Linked DNA regions of Homo sapiens: region 1 is linked to region 2. Evidence: fine-mapped expression QTL. Tissue or cell type: whole blood. Region 2 holds a variant in brackets; the other region holds the start of a gene. All regions are shown on one strand. Distances are from middle to middle.

Region 1 (2,908 bases), 20 kb after region 2:
TTCGTCTCAAAAAAATAATTTTTTTTTTGAATTACTGCTTAACATACCCTACAATCTCAGCGAGCCTGTTGGTATTCCCATAAATAAAAAAATGCCACTCAAGGTGGAAACTGCCCTCACAACTCCCAATCTCGGATTGTAATCTACAAAAGCGCGTGAAACTGTAAAAATAAACTTTATTCACATAGAAGAATCACGTTACGTTTTGATTTCCAAACCCTTACCAAGCCTAACTGCGGGACGCAAGACTGGGCTCCCCGAGGGGACTCACTCCTGGTTAAGGCCTCCCACAGCCCACGGCGCGCTTCCAAGTCTACTCCTCAGCCGCAACGCAAACCCGGGCTGTGGCTCCGCACCCACAGGCTCGCCCCGGCCCCAGCCCCTGCCGCCCTCCACCTCCAGCTCCTCGCGGGCCCCGAGGCAGCCGCGAAGCTCCGGCCCCGCGCCCCCCAGCCCGCCTCCTGCCCCAGCTCCCGTCCAAGGTCGCTCCTGGCGGCGGGTGACCGCTGCAGACCAACGCCCAGAACTCGACAGCCCCCCATCCTTTACTCATTTTTTTGAAATATTTCTTTCTCTGCACCCGCATCCAGCCCCGAACCCTCCAGAACCAGGAGAGTTCCCCGCAAGGACCTCGCGCAGGAACGCCCGGGACCGCCCACCGAAGTCCCAGGCTCCCCAGGCAGCAGGGCAGGAGAACACCACCCCCGGCCCGGAAGCACTCGCCCCTCCCGGGCCAAGAAGGATAAGGGAGGGGGAGGGCGGAGAGAAAGGAGGGGGAGGGGACAGAGAGGAGGGGGAGGGGACAGAGAGGAGGGGGAGGGAAAGGAAGAATGGGGGAAGGGGGGAGAGGGGAAGGATAGGAAGATGAGGAGATAAGGGAAGGGAGAGAGTTGAGGGGGGAAGGAAAGGAGGGGGAAGGGGTAAAGAGAAGAGAGGGCAGAAGGAGAGAGGAAGAGGAAGGACAGGGAAAGGCAACGGGGGAAGGGAAGAGGGCAGGAAAAGGGCCCCTCCGCCGGCCGGCCTCAGGAGCGGCAGAAGGCCCCGAGCCCGCCGCGCGGTGGGCTGCCGGGCGCACCTTGCGCTTGCGGGCCTCAGCCGTGCCGCTCCACACGAAGCACTGGTAGATGGCCCGCAGGTTCTGCTTCCAGTTGTCCACCTTGAAGCTGCCCAGGTGCGAGCAGCCCGGCGGCGCTACCGCCAGCTCGGCGTCCATGGCCTCGCCCTCGGGCTCTGGCCGGGACACCATGGGGGGCAAGGCCCGGCCGCGCGCGGGGGGCGGCGGCGAGGGAGGCGAGGACGACGCCAGCGCGGCGTGGGGGCTGCTCGGCGGCTGGCCAGGCTGGCCAAGGCCCGGGCGCCGAGAACAAAGCGCGGAGGCCGGACAAAGATGGGGCTGCGCGATCGCCGAGGGGAGGCTGCAAGGCAGGCACCGCCCCCGAGCTGCGGCTGCTGCGGACCGCCTGCGCTGCGCTCTCGCGGTTCGCGGAGGGTGTCGCGGGGCGGGGCGCCGCGGCCGCGGACGGAGATTACGTCACCCCCCCCCCCCCTCCCGGCCGGCACCGCACTGCGCAGTCTCCAGCCCGCGCCAGGCCCTTCCCCCACACTCGCGCGCCCGTTAGGCTCTGGGTAGACCCGCGCCCGAGGAAGCGTGGTAGGGGGGGGAAGCTAACGAGGGCCCGCCCCTCCCCTTCCTTTATTGGTAGTAGGCCACCCCCCCCCCCCCCCCGGCACCTTCGGCTATTGTCATAGGCTCTCAGTATAGTCCGTCTGGTACAGAGCCGCCTCCCGGGACCCTGGCGGCTAGACGTTCCCTGTCTCTTCCAGAGGACTGGGGAGGCGGGGGCGTGCTGCGGTTGGGCGGCGCGAGACGTCAGTCCTAGCACTGAACCGGTTTGCGCCGGCCTGAGCTCTGCCGCAAAGAGGCGGGGCGATGAGCTGGAGCGCCGCAGGTCGGGCCTCCATCCAGGGCCTGCGCTTTCCCACCCAAAAGCACCCCCTAATCGGGAGCTGTTTGCAGGGCCCCCGGTTGCCGTAACCTGGCTCGGGCCCTGCAGTGCCGTGGCCCGGGGCTGGAACTGCCTGCCAACTGCCTGGTAGGCGCTGCCCCCGGCCGCAAGCTGGGGCGCCTCCTGTCGGGAGCCCGCTGATAGTGAGGGCCAACCCGGCGCCATCCAGTTTAAAGAGGCATCTGCGCGCCACACGCCTGACACTTCACATTTGCTAGTGGCTACATTTTTCTAATGAAAAAAGAAAGTTACAGTAATATATCTCAACCCAATAAAGTCAAATTATTTCAGCATGTAGGCAGTATTGCAAAATCGTTAGTGGAATGTTTTACAGTTTTTGCAGCAAGTCTTGGAAATCTGGTATTTACACTTAAAGCACATCCAATTCCTACTAGCTGCTACCGCAGTGGGCGGCACAGGTCTAATCGGTATACAAATAACTGACCCAAGGCAAACTGAGAAGACATTTAAAGACGAATGCAAACGAAGTTCTGGGGGAACCAGGGCGCCAAGGGTCTGGGGGAACTTGGATAAGGTGTCAGGTGTGGAGCTGCTCCCCTGTACTCATCCCGCTGCTAACTGCTTTGCTCATTCATTCATCCACAGATTGCAGGAAACAGCAATTGCCGTCCAGAACCATCACAAGTTAAAAAATAAAGATTGTGATCTCACAACACTTAAAGCTACAGGGTTTAATGGACTGACGACTGGGATAAAGCTTTTGTGGCCAAGACAAATTGCCGAGCACAGGTTTTTGCCTCATGGCCTTCGTGCTTGCAGTACCCTCTCCCTAAAATGCTTTCCCTACCCCCTCACCCTCTGCATCCTTATATTCCATGTCTGATGCTCGCTCACCTCCTTCCAGCTTTATCACACACCTCCTTTTCCGTGAAAAGGAAAAT
Region 2 (2,908 bases):
GGTGTCTTAAAAAACAGAGGCGACCCATACATACTTTTCAAAGCAGCCAATACTCCAGGATCAGGACCTCTGCCACCTTCTCTGAATGCGTGGTATTTAAAACTGGTACAACTGCATTGGATATTTTCAGTCCTGGCCACCTGACACGGAGTGACTATGCTTCCCTCCATCTAGAATTCCTGACACCATCACCATAAAGAATGTGGCAGCAACTTGCTGTGACTTTTGTGGTTGGCGGCATTTGCTACTCTTACCTTAAGTACAGGGGGAAAATAGTTTCTCATCGGATGACTTTGATTGACATCTTGACCCAGAGCTGCCTGAAGGTGGGTCTTCTACCACAATTTCTCAACTGCATCTTCTAAAAAATGGGACTAATAGGCCAGGAGCTGTGACTTATGCCTGTTACCCCAGCACTTTGGGAAGCCGATGTAGGCAGATCATTTGAGGCCAGGAGTTCAAGACCAGCCTGGTCAACATGGTGAAACCCCATCTCTACTAAAGTACAAAAAATTAGCCAGGCATGGTGGCACACGCCTGTAACCCCAGCTATTCGGGGAGCTGAGGCGTGAGAACAGCTGAAACCTGGGAAGGGGAGGTTGCAGTGTGCCAAGATCTTGCCACTGCACTCCAGCCTGGGCAACAGAGTGAGACTCTGTCTCAAAAAATAAAAATAAAAATAAAAAAATTATAGTAATACTAGTATATTCTTTTCACAAATAAGAAGAGATACATATGTATGTATAAATTTCAATTTTCTAAAACAGTCACAAGAAACTGTTCACAGTCGTTTCCTTTGGGGAGAAGTATACATTTTCGTGTCGTTTGAACTTTCTAATCGTGTGCATGTCCAGTTTTTAATTGTCAACATAAACCTTTATTTTATGGAAATAAGATCCACTTTTGCTTTCTTTGTTAAAAGTAATAATTTGTAAAAAGTCAAAAAAATAAAATAAAATAAAATAGGACTAATAGTTTGGGCTCTTAATTATTTTATCATAAAAGTAAGTAAGATAAAGTCCTCTGAGTGCCTGAAAAAAGGTACTCTCTCCATTCAACAATTTATAAACAACTGGGGTTAACCGGGTGTGGTGGTTCACGCCTGTAATCCCAGCACTTTGGGAGGCCGAGGCAGGCAGATCACGAGGTCAGGAGATTGAGACCATCCTGGCTAACATGGTGAAACCCCGTCTCTACTAAAAGTACAAAAAATTAGCCAGGCATGGTGGCAGGCACCTATAGTCCCAGCTACTCAGGAGGCTGAGGCAGGAGAATGGCGTGAACCTGGGAGGCGGAGCTTGCTATGAGCTGAGATCTCACCACTGCACTCCAGCCTGGGCAACAGAGCGAGACTCCGTCTCAAAAAAAAAAAAAAACCAAATGAACCAGGATTACCTACCCAAAGGAAGGTAAATGGCTCTACCATAAAGACACATGCATGCGTGTGTTCATCGCAGCACTATTCACAATAGCAAAGACATGAGATCAACCTAAATGCTCACCAATGGTGGACTGGATAAAGAAAATGTACATATATACCATG[G/A]GATACCATGTATACATAAAATGAAATGAGATCATGTCGTTTGCAGGAACATGGATGGAGCTGGAGGTCATTATCCTTAGAAAACTAACATAGGAACAGAAAAACCAAATACCACATGTTCTCACTTATAAGTGGGAGCTAAACCATTAGAACACATGGACACAAGAGGAGAACAACAGACACTGCGGCCTACTTGAGGGTGGAGAGTGGGAGAAGGGAGAGGATCAGGAAAAACAAACAAAAAAAATTGTCAGGTACTACAGTACATACCCAGGTGAGGGAATAAACTGTACACCAAACCACTGAATAATACGTTTATATAACAAACCTGCACATGTACCGTTGAAACTAAAATAAAAGTTAAAATATTTTTTAAAAAACTGGGAGAGAAACCCGGCGTGGTGGCTCACACCTGTAATCCCAGCACTTTGGGAGGCTGAGGTGAGTGGATCACTTGAGCTCAGGAGTTCCAGGACCAGCCTAGGCAACATGGTGAACCCCCATCTCTACAAAAATTAGCCGGGTGTGGTGGTGTGTGTCTAAGGTCCCAGCTACTCAAGAGGCTTAGGTGGAAGGATGGCTTGAGCCCGGAAGGCAGAGGCTGCAGTGAGCCAAGACTGCACCACTGCACTCCAGCCTGGGCGAGAGTGCCAGACTATGTCTCAAAAAAAAAAAAAAAAAAAAAATTGGGAGAGTGGGGCTTAAATCCACGTGATGTCAGACACCCGGGAGGCAGCGAAGCACAGAGGAAAGACCATGGATTGAGAGTAACTGGCACCAGCCCTCACTATGCCACCTGCCAGCTGTGCACCTTTCATCAATTACTCCACACCTCTGAGCCTCAGTTTCCCCTGCGGTAAGATGCTGATAGCAACGGTACTAGTGCTTCCCAGAGCTGTGTGATGATTAGGTTAGTATATAACTTAAGTGCATCCCCGGATAAACAGGGAAGTCTTGGAACACCACAGTTTTATTCTATTTCAGGTCTTAAGCTACTACGACTTATATTGTGGTAAATCTTTGAAGTCTTCCAAAGCAGATCTGTTGAAACTCAAAACAGCAGTTTAAGATTCCCAGGGCTACCTTCTGCCCTACTCAAAAAATTCACAAAATGCCAACAACGATGTTAAAATCCTGGTGGGAGCTGTCGCAGAGCTCAGCCATCAACCTTTGCCACTTCCTGTTCATCAGCAGTACAGCCCCAGCACATGGACGTCACAGAGAAATCCTGACAGAGACAAGTTTACAATAAGGGTGATGAGAATTTACAGTAAGGCCAAGATATCCCGTGAAAAACAGCCCACACATGTAGCTGACAACAAAAACTCTAGCCTGGGAAGACGGATCACCATTCCAGTGCCTATG

What was found. PIP is the estimated chance that this variant, and not a neighbour inherited with it, causes the effect.
Region 1: USP22 starts here. The variant in region 2 is fine-mapped to the expression of USP22 in whole blood (TOPMed, PIP above 0.99).

The regions. Positions count from the first base shown.
Region 1 is chr17:21,041,590-21,044,497 of GRCh38, forward strand. USP22 (ubiquitin specific peptidase 22) reads right to left here and starts at 1,422. Exons shown (of 13, transcript NM_015276.2): 1 at 1,076-1,422. The coding sequence starts at 1,246. RefSeq lists a silencer at 1,108-1,707 and enhancers at 1,243-2,192, 2,193-2,908.
Region 2 is chr17:21,021,438-21,024,345 of GRCh38, forward strand. All of the region lies in intron 2 of USP22 (ubiquitin specific peptidase 22), which reads right to left. Among named protein-coding and RNA genes, the nearest start is that of USP22, 20 kb to the right of the region's middle. The variant G/A (reference allele first, on the strand shown) is at 1,544.